Linked DNA regions of Homo sapiens: region 1 is linked to region 2. Evidence: fine-mapped expression QTL. A gene starts in region 2. The other region holds a variant in brackets. All regions are shown on one strand. Distances are from middle to middle.

Region 1 (5,363 bases), 48 kb after region 2:
GCCTGTGTTTTGCCATGTTGCCCAGGCTGGCCTCGAGTTCCTAGGCTCAAGGGATCTGCCTGTCTTGGCCTCCCAAAGTGCTGGAATCAGAGGTGTAAGCCACCACGCCCGGCCAGATTTTCTCATTTAATCTTCACTCTAATTCTGTGAAATGGGTACAGCTAGTATCTTTATGTCCCAAATGAGGAAACAGATTTGGAGAAGTTATGTCACTTTGCTCATGTTCAGTCAGCTGGTAAGCAACAGAGGTGGGCAGAGCGACTATAGTAAGTTTTCTGTATAGTTTACCTCTTTTAAGTTTCTGGAAGGCAGGAGCCAGATCGCACTGAGCTTTGCAACTGGAGCCAGGGCTCCAGAGTACTGCTCAACAAAGGTTTGCTAGGGCAACAGTAGCTGGGGATTTAGCGACCAGACCCCAGCAAGCAGATTCTCAGGGATGAAAGTAGTCCTGGAAGCCTCTAAAGCCCTGGTTGCTCAGTAGAATCTAGTTTCAAGAGGAGCCCAGCATTTCAAGTGGCTCTGAAGACAGAGGAGATTTGGAGAGTGCTCTTTGCATTGTGGCTTCCAGGCCTGAAGGAGAGTGAGCTGGAGGTTGCTCTCTGTTCTCACCTCTTATGCCATGTCAGGTTTTTCCCAGGCAGGCTTGAGTCCTGGGGGAGCCCCGCCTCATGGCCCAGGCTGCAGTGCTGATCTCCCTGCCTTGTGGTGAGGATTGCAGCTCAGAGAGCTAAAGGGCAGTAAACCACCTTGGTTTTGGCTTTGTGCTTAAGTTGCAGGCTCTTCTGGTTATCCTTTGTGAAGGAGGCTCTTACCCTGGCTGGAAAGAGGGAGCAGCCCCTGCCTCCCATCTACAATGGGACAGTAAAGGAATATGGCTGTTTCTCAAGTGGAACAGTCACAGTTAATTTTGGGGGTGGGAGCATCCAGGCTTTCCACTGGTGAGTGCCTGCCAGTTTTACAAGCTCTCCTACACTGAATGCTCCTCTGGTTTATTGACTCTTGGCAGTTGATAGCGATAGTTGCTCATGGCAGTTGATAGCGATAGTTGCTCAGAATCAAAGGATGAAAAGACAGTTTCTGGATACAGTGAGGGAGGAAGGGTTAAAAAACAAAGGACTCCAACTCCCAGTTACAAGATGTCCCATATGGCCATGCGCAGTGGCTCACTCCTGTGATCCCAGCACTTTAGGAGGCCGAGGTGAGAGGATTGCTTGAGCCCAGGGAGTTCGAGACCAGCCTGGGCAACATGGAGAAATCCTGTCTGTACAAAAAATACAAAAATTAGCCGGGCTTGGTGGCCCATGCCTGTAGCCCCAGGTATTCAAGAGGAAGATCACTTGAGCCCAGGAGGCGAAGATTGCAGTGAGCCAAGATCGTACCACTGCACTCCAGCCCGGGCAACAGAGCAAGACCCTGTTTAAAAATAAATAAATAAATAGGGACTTGCCACAGGCACATGACCTTTCTTAAGAGACAAAGTCTTGTGCTGGGAATGGTAGCTCATGTCTATAATCCCAGCACTTTGGGAGGCCAAGGTGGGCAGTTCACTTGAATTGTTGAGTTCAGTACCAGCCTGGACAAGCTTGCAAAACCCTATCTCTACAAAAAATACAAAAATTAGCCGGGCGTATTGCTGTGGGCCTATAGTTGCAGCTATTCGGGAGGCTGAGGTGGGAGGATGGATTGAGCCCAGGAGGCAGAGGTTGTAGTGAGCCAAGATCGTGCTGCTGCACTCTAGCCTGGGTGATAGAGTCATACCTTGTCTTGAAAAAAAAAGAGAGGCTGGGCGTAGTGGCCCATGTCTGTAATCCCAGCACTTTGGGAGGCTGGGGCGGGTGGATTACTTGAGGCCAGGTGTTCAAGACTAGCCTGGCCAAGGTGGTGAAACCCCATCTTACTAAAAATACAAAAATGATCTGGACGTGGTGGCACGCACCTGTAATCCCAGCTATTTGGGAGGCTCAGGCAGGAGAATCACTGGAACACAGGAAGCGGAGGTTGCAGTGAGCCGAGATCGCACCACTGCACTCCAGCCTGGGTGACAGAGCAAGACTCCATCTCAAAAAAAAAAAGAGGCCGGGTGCAGTGGCTCAGACCTGTAATCCCAGCACTT[T/G]GGGAGGCCAAGGTGAGCAGATCACAAGGCCAGGAGATCGAGACCATCCTGGCCAACATGGTGAAACCTCGTCTCTACTAAAAATATAAAAAAATTAGCTGAGTGTGGTGGCGGGCGCCTGTAATCCCAGCTACTCGGGAGGCTGAGGCAGGAGAGTTACTTGAACCCGGGAAGCAGAGGTTGCGGTGAGCCGAGATTGCGCCACTGCACTCCAACCTGGGCAACAGAGTGAGACTCTATCTCAAAAAAAAAAAAAAAGAGACGAGAGTCTAATTCTGTCACCCAAGCTGGAGTGCAGTGGCACGATCATAGCTCACTGTTACCTCCACCTCCTGGACTGAAACGATTATCCTGCCTTAGCCTCCCGAGTAGCTGAGACTACAGACCCATGGCACCATGCCTGGCTAATTTTTGAATTTGGAGAGAGAGGGTCTCACTCTGTTGCCCAGGCTTGTCTCGAATTCCCAGGCGCAAGTCGTCTTCCCACCTTGGCCTCCCAAAGTGCTGGGATTAAGGCATGAGCAACAGTGCTCAGCCCCGTGTGGCTTTTTTTTTTTGAGACAGAGTCTCACTCTGTTGCCCAGGCTGGAGTGCAGTGGTGCAATCTCTGCTCACTGCAACCTCCACCTCCCAGGCTCAAGCAGTTCTCATGCCTCAGCCTCCGAGTAGCTGGGATTACAGGTGTACGCCACCACGCTCAGCAAATTTTTGTATTTTTAGTGGAGATGGGGTTTCGCCATGTTGCTTAGGCTGGTCTCGAACTCCTGACCTCAAGTGATCCACCAGCCTCGGCCTCTCAAAGTGCTGGGATTACATGGTGGGGGCCACCATGCTTGGCCCCCATGTGGCTTTTAATCTAAATCCTACCCTATCTCTTCCCAGCTTTTCTGTTTGTAGTCAGTGCTTTGTATTTCCTCAGTTTACAAAATCCCTTACTGTCTCCCACAAATAGGATTGAGGAAACAGTCCTTCTGTCACATTGCAAAGCCCTAGAAAAATGAAGGGACTAGAAAAATGAAGCTGTTTGATCCTGCTCTGGTTCTCAGTCTACCAGTGAGTGAAGGGCCGGAGGGCCCGGGCAAGCTTGAGCCCAGGATCCAGTGGGCCCACTGAAGTCAGGGCCCACTTTTGGGGGGCTGGGAAAAGGAAGGGTTGCTGTGGGACCACTGGGATAGGCCTTTAAACAGCACTTCACCATTGGCCTGAATCAAACATTGTCATTCCCAGTGTCCCGAGCACCTTCCCTGAGTCTTCATACCTTCTGCCTCCTAGCTTATGGAGGAGGAGCCAGGGGCTTATCTTTTGGGGGAAATGAGAGCACGATTAGGCATCAAGAAGGGTTGATGAGAAACTGGTAAGGGGGACTGTCAAGAACAGCAGAGTGCTGAAATGGTGACAAAAGCTCTGGGCTCCGGCCCCAGCTCTGTACTGAGAAGCTGTGAGATTTTGGGCAAGTCTCATAACCTCTGAATGCCAATTTCTCAATGGAAAACAGGGAGACTACCTACCCTATAGGTCTGTGTTTGGAGAAAACAAAGTGTAAGCGCTGGACATACAGTAGCATCAGAAATGCTGAATCCGTTGGCCAGGGCTCATGTGTAAGGCAAACATTTCTTGGCCACTCCTGAGTAGCATGGTCTTGCAGGAATATATGCTTAAGTGCTGTGAGAGCACAGAGGAAGCTTTGCCCTTCCCTAGAGGGTTAATGGCTACCAACGTGAGAAGGTCACGGAGTTCCTTAATGAGAGGGAGCCTAGCCTAGAATAGGGGATGAATGAGAAATTGTTCTGAGAACCAGAGGCAAGGCTGCAACCAGCACATAGACAGGGGTCGTTGGTCTAGAAGGGGAGTCTTCTCCAGATGAGAGACAGCCAGCTTGCCCTGTGCTCACCATGTGCCCAGATAGTGGGGGCTTAGCAGGAGGAAGGTGTGAGGAATCCCAGGCCTTTGGAATTCCTTGAGAAAGCAGTGTTGTTTTGAAGGTAAGGCAGGGGATTGGTGACTGGAAACTTGGAGGTGAGTGAGAACCTAGGGATGAACGTTCAGAAGCAGGGCTGGAAGGAACTTAAAAGGGACATTTGGATTGTTTCTAGCTTTTGGGCAAAATCTAGGATTAAATATGATTTTTTCATTGATAGAATGCTCTATCAGTGATAAAGGCTCTTAATCTAGAAAACATACACCTCATAGGGGGCTTTACAGAGTCCCCAAACTCCCTGAAATTATGCTCAAAATATTTTGTGTCTAAGTGGAATGTGCATGTTTCCAAGGTTAAGCACTGCTTTTTTAGGAAGTAGGAGGTCCGTCCGCCACTGTCAGCTTGCTGGTTTCTGCTTACCCTCCTCCCCACTTCGTTCTTGAGGGGGTGGTTTGCTGGTCTTTGGCAGGGCCGCCACTCTGGGTCAGCACATCTGAGTCACACATGTTCCTCCCCAGCCCTATTGGAGGCTTTGTTAAAGTCATCTGCCCCTACCCAGGTCCCACCTGCCACAGGTGAGCTAGGGTTTTATGACAGCCGTGGCTGCAGTGAGTCTCCTCGACCTCTCGCCAGCTGTTACCCAGCAAAGCACCTTGGGGAGGGTGGGGCTGCCCACTTCCGGGGAGGGGGGGAGGGGGAGGGGAGAAGGAAGTTGATCTAAACCCGCCTCTTTCTCTGTCTCCCTTCCTGCCCTATTCCCCTCCTGCCCCTTCCCTCCCACCTTGCTTCTGGTGTGCTGTCCTGGAATTGCACGCGCTTCCTGACCACCAGGCTCTGGCCCTTGAGAAGCCAGCGGGGCTTTGTCCCTGTTGCTCTCCTTGCCAAACCCAGTCTCTCTGCTAGTGGTGGTTTCGGTTGCGACACCGTCCAGGTTCCCAGGCAGGAACCGCTCGGCCTGGCTGCTTAGCTACTTTTCACTGAGGAGGTGGTGGAAGGTGTCGCCTGCTCTGGCTGAGTAAGGGTGGCTGGCTGAGCCGGCAGCCCCCGCCCTAGGCCTGGCTCTTCCCGGCCTCTGTACTTTGCCCTCGCTGCCTGACAGGTTCTGCTGTGGGCTCTGCTGAATGGAAGTCGCTGGTAGTCCTTTTCCCTTTCTCCAGTCGGGTATGTTGTCCCCCTTTTTACTCTAGGATTGCCTCCTCCTCTTTCTTTCCTCTCATCTCAAACATAGGATCTTTAGAGAGTTGCTAAGGGGCGCCCTGCCTGAGTCCAGCATAGTAATATTCATGGGAAGGGTGTCCAGATGTGGAAGAGGCATTGACTAGGAAAGGAAGA
Region 2 (5,363 bases):
TCCTGACCTCACATGATCCCCTCACCTTGGTCTCCCAAAGTGCTGGGATTACAGGCATGAGCCACCGCGCCTGGCAGGCAGAGATCTTTATCTTGTTCACTGATCTACCTAAAAGCCTAAAACAATGCCTTGCACATAGTAGGTGCTCAGTAGGGATTTGCTGAATGAATAAATGAATTTGCAGATTTAGAGAGGGGGTAAATGTGTGGCAATAATTCATCTTTGAGGAGAACTAGGAGGGTTCATGGATTTGAGTAGGTGAGATTTGAACTGGATCTTGAAGTGGTTCTGGAAGCTGAGGTGGATGATGGGCAATCATCTATCAGCTTGACCAAAGGCATGGAAGTGAGAGAGACTGGCAGCGGGGTAGGAGTTAGGGAGAAGTGTGATCAGTGATAGTTGGAGAGGTTATTGTAAGGCAATGTGAGGCCAGATTGAGCAAAGTTTTAAATGCAGGCTAAAGGCTTTTCCTACAGCCAGGACCAGCTACATAATTTGTGGGGCACAGTGCAAAATGGAAATGCATGGCCCCCTTGGTCAAAAATTTCAAGATAATGGGCCGGGCGTGGTGGCTCACGCCTGTAATCCCAGCACTTTGGGAGGCCGAGGCAGGTGGATCACTTGAGGTTGGGAGTTCTAGACCAAACTGGCCAACATGGTGAAACCCTGTCTTTACTAAAAACACAAAAAATTAGCCGGGTGTGGTGGTGGGCACCTATAATCCCAGCTATTCAGGAGGCTGAGGCATGAGAATCACTTGAACCTGGGAGGTGGAGGTTGCAGTGAGCTGAGATCGCACCACTGCACTCCAGCCTGGGAGATAGAGCGAGATTCAGTCTTAAAAAAAAAAATTTCAAGATGGTGACAGCAGAGCATTAATCCAAGCTCAGGGTCCACCTGAGCACAGGGCTCTGTGTGACTGCATGGGGTCGTGGGCCCAAGAAGCCAGCCCTGCCTATAACCAGTGAGGGAGCTGGTGATAGCTTTCTAGCAGAGCAGAGATGTTATTGGAGCTGGACTTTGGGAAGATTATTCTGACATGTCTGGTGCAGTAGGTTGGAGGGAGTCTAGGCGGGGAGACAAGCTCAGCAGCCTTGTGCAAAGCTAGCAAGGAAGAGAAAGGATAGGTAGGGTAGGGGTTGGGGATGAAGGTCAAAGGGCAGGGGTGAGGCAGGGGTTAGAGCTAGAGTGAGAAGCTTGGAGAAGATGGAGTCTATTTAGACGAGAGTGTGGACCAGGGAGAGACTGCTGGAACACCAACCACCAACTGCTTCCTCTCTCTTTTCCCTGCTTTCCAGACCCTGGCATTAGAGGTGATACCAGGCACAGGAATCAGCAACGTGTCTCCCTTTGGCCACCAGAGGGCAGATGATTCTCAAGGATCGAATTTGGGTTGGGGAGTGAGGTGTTCTCTGTCCTCCTCTTCTCTCTTTCCCTCACCTTCATGGGTGTGCCTTCACCTTCTTCCTCAACGGTTGGGTGCCTGAATAGAGCTGGTATGGGGCATGGGGAGCAGTGCTGAAGTCCCAGGATTTACTAAGAGTGTAGTGATACCTGTTGCCTTAGGAAGTACTTTCATACCCTGGTAATTACATCTGCTCAGATGCCTATTTCTCTGATTGATGGGATGAAGGCTGGCTCAAGATGCTGTAGCTGGGAGTTGGAGGTCAAGTAGCAGGGGTCCAATCAGCAGTTTTCCCAATAACTCCTGGAGCCTCTCTGCTCCTGTACCTTTGGGAACCTGTTGCCTGAGTCTGGTTTCTGACTCCTGCGGGGCCTCTGCCTCCTGCCCACCTTAAGCCACTGATGGGAGGGTGTGGTTCCAACGTGTTCCAGGTACTATGGGTGAGGACAGCTTGGCGCTGGGGAAATCAGCCCAGGATACTCCCTGTCCTTGGTAACGCAGTGTAAGGGGAAGTGAGGAATGGACTGCAGTTGCCATACAGACTTCCTGTTAGTCAAGGGCTCTCCAAAGCTGAGAAGGACCTCCGAGTTCATGAATCCAATGGCTTCACTTTACTGATGGGGAAAATGAGGCCCAGAGGAGGAAAGAAAAGAAACTTTAAATGCCTTATCTTGCAGAGGCATTTTAAAAGGTAACTGGAATTCAGAAATGTCATTTTGAATGTCAACGCAGGAGCAAAGGCAAAGGAAAGAGGAGCCTAAACTCAGTGATGTTATGTGATTTTTCCAAGATCACGCAGCATTGGCACTTGGCAGAGCTGGGGCTGAAATGCAGGGCCCTGGACGCTCCCGCATCCGGTGCAGAGGACGCTGCCCTGGGCCTGCCTGGGGCCTTGCCGAGCCCTGCGGACTAGATGCGGGAATGCACGGATGAATCCACAGAAGCCAAGATAGACGGTGGCAGACAGGCAATAGACTGATGCTGCATTTGACAGGTATATTGATAGGCTAGATGATAAAAAGAAGATGAATTTTATGAGCTGACCGACAGATGGACAGAAATGCAGACAGGAAGCTGCTATAGAACCAGAGGATGCCAATCACAGGGACGGCTAACAATCTTGTTTTGTATTTAGTCAAATCACAAGCACAGACAGGTGACCCACGCTTCCTGTTCAAGGTTTGAAAATGCCCGAAAACTGACGGAAAGACACGAAGCGAATCAGACTCCGAGAGCCACCCGGGGAAACGACCGGGTGCTCGGAGGGCCTCGGGTGTTGCCGGAAATGGCCGACGACCGCCCTCGGCAGGGCTGTGGGAGGGGGCGTGGCCGGCTCAGCACGCGGAGCAGCTTCGGGTATTTCCGGAAACTGCCGAAAGCCCCCTTGAAGTGGGCGGGGAAAGGCCGGTGGGCGTGGCTGGATGGCCGTGGACGGGGGCGGGGGGTAGGCACCCGGGGTCGCTTCGTGGATTTCCGTAAACAGAGCCGAAGCTTCGTCTTCGGAATCGAGGAGGAGAGCGCGTCCCCGGGGTTTACCTTCTTCGGCTGTTTCCGGAATTCACCCGTAGTCTGTGGCCGGGAGGAGAAGGCGCGCCCCACCTCCCGTTTCTAGCCGCTTCGGATGTTTCCGGCTGCTGCCGGCGAAAAGAGCCGAGGGCCGGCGGTGGTGGCGGCCATGTTGGGAGCAGCAGGTCCGGCGGCGGCTGCCTGTGTGCCGGGCGCGGAGCAGTGCCGCTGAGGGCAGGGGAGGAGCGAGGCAGGCGGCCGGCTGCGGCGGCAGAGAGTAGGCGGAGCGGCGCGGCCCGGCCGAAAGGCGGCACAGCCCAGCCGGGGGTCGGGGGGGTGCGGTCCGGAGCCGCTCGGAGCCGGCGCGGCCTAGCCCGAGCGGCGCATCCCCGGGCTGGCGTGAGCGGCTGCCCGGCCTCCCCGCACCCCCGGCCGGGGCCCATGCGGCGGGTGCTCCTGCTGTGAGAAGCCCCGCCCGGCCGGGCTCCGCGCCTTCCCTTCCCTCCCTTCCTCCAAGCTTCTCGGTTCCCTCCCCCGAGATACCGGCGCCATGTCCAGCGCTCGGACCCCCCTACCCACGCTGAACGAGAGGGACACGGAGCAGGTAAGGAGCCCCGAGGGCTCCCCGAATTCTCTGGCTGGGCCCTTTGCACCTTGCGGAGCCTCCTCCCTCTTCTGCTCTCCTCGTGCCCCTGCTGCCATCCTGCAAGCCTCGGCTGCCCTGTCATCCGGCTCCTGGCTCCGGCTCCGCACATCCCGCTTCCGAGTCCTGACCTGGGACCCACCTCGTCCTGACTCCAAGCTGCACACTTGTCTTTCTGCCAACCCCCGTCTCCCCTCACCGCCCTCCTGCGCTCTTCCGTGTCACCTCCCCAGCTTCCCTTTCTCTTCCCTTTTTCTCTCAGGGGCCTTTCTGGTCTTCCTCCACCCACGCTTAAAGCAGCCACCCTCCCGCTCCTCGAATAGCAGCACCCCGCGATTTGCCACAGATCGTTGTCCACCTCTCCCTTCGTCTCTCCTGCCTCGCTTCCCCTCCGCCCGCACCGGTTCTGCCAGTCTCTGGGTTATCACCCTCAGGGTCCTTGCCCTGGACTGCGCTCTCGATCCCTGGCCCCTTGCAGTTCCCCCAGCTTTTTCTACCCTGCTTCTTCGTTTTCCAAATTGTGCTCTCCCTCTTGCTTGCAACCCACCAGCTCCACCCTCATCACCTTTCCAAATCCTTCGCCTACTCTTTGCTCATCACTTTCCCTTCTTTGCTCCAGGAGCTCCCTGGATCCTGGCGCTGGCATTTGTCGCTTCCGTGTTTCCCCACAGCTGTCATGCGCATAGTTTTCCCACAGGTTGCGTTTGGGGTTCCAATCATCACTCCCTTCAGAGTCTTTGGATCCCTCTTGTTCTCTTCCCCTCGGGTTTGGCTTTTAGGTCCCTGGGCCTCTTGTTTCTCTCTGTGAGTGTTCTACCAGCCTTCTACTGGGCTCTTTCTCCCAACCCAAAGACACTTGGCCCCACCGTATTAACACAACCTGTTGCTCAGTCCTTTCCCAGACCTCGCTGCATCACAGTTTTTGCCTTTCTGTCTTCGTACGCTGGAACACAAACCATGATGACTTTCTGTGTCTTCACTCCCGTGCCTGGCACTTAGAGTATTTTCTTTCTTGCTTGTTGCCTTCCTGTTTCTCCACCCTCACCCCATCTTCCTTACTGTGCCTTTTAATCAGCGTTGCCTTTCATCTCCGCATTAGTCTCCTGCCTTCTTCATGTCCTGTGTATCCCCACACCGTGCTTGGATCCATTCTGTTCCTATTGGCTAAGTCTCTGTAATGCCCAGGAAGTCCAGGTGTTTTGCATGCTAGTTTCTTGAGCTACACCTCAGCCTCACGACTCTACACGGTCCCCCTCATCCTGGCAGTCACTGCTATGTTTTTCACCCAAGTCTTAGCCTTTCTGTGTCATCTCACTTTTGATCCCAGAGACGTCCACTTTCCACACCTCCCCTTTCTTTCACCATCTCTAGCGTCCTTTGCTGACTGCTCTGTGCAGAGTCCCCTGCCTGTCATACCTTTCTTGGTGGAGAACTTTACTAGGCCAAAAAAACTTGACTTGAAAAAGAAGTGCTTCTGCCCCGGGGCTGCTGTGCTTTTTGCCTTCTTTCCCCTCCTTCCATCCTTTATGTTTCCCTCTTACTCCCTTCTTTCTTTGTAGCCCGGTAGAGCAGTTGTTGTATTCTCTTGCATGTGAACATTCTTCTTTGAAAAATCTTACCTCCTTTCTTTTACTGTGTTTTTCTATTTTGTTACCCCCTGGCCCTCTGTCACCTGGGCAGTTAGGAACTAAAGAGAAGTTCTAGGCAGAGTTTTTCTCTGCAGGGTTGACCCTTTTATTACTTGTGGATTATTTGCTTCTGGGGGTGAAATAGGGGTTGAGAGGGAGGGATGGTTGATTTCCATTTCAT

What was found. PIP is the estimated chance that this variant, and not a neighbour inherited with it, causes the effect.
Region 1: its variant is the best candidate, but not a certain one, in a credible set for the expression of MARK2 in whole blood (TOPMed, PIP 0.67).

The regions. Positions count from the first base shown.
Region 1 is chr11:63,883,773-63,889,135 of GRCh38, forward strand. All of the region lies in intron 1 of MARK2 (microtubule affinity regulating kinase 2), which reads left to right. Among named protein-coding and RNA genes, the nearest start is that of RCOR2, 31 kb to the right of the region's middle. RefSeq lists an enhancer at 4,745-4,854. The variant T/G (reference allele first, on the strand shown) is at 2,114.
Region 2 is chr11:63,836,046-63,841,408 of GRCh38, forward strand. It overlaps MARK2 (microtubule affinity regulating kinase 2), which reads left to right and starts at 3,065. Exons shown (of 19, transcript NM_001039469.3): 1 at 3,065-3,515. The coding sequence starts at 3,462. RefSeq lists enhancers at 1,751-2,739, 3,000-3,149 and a silencer at 3,160-3,399.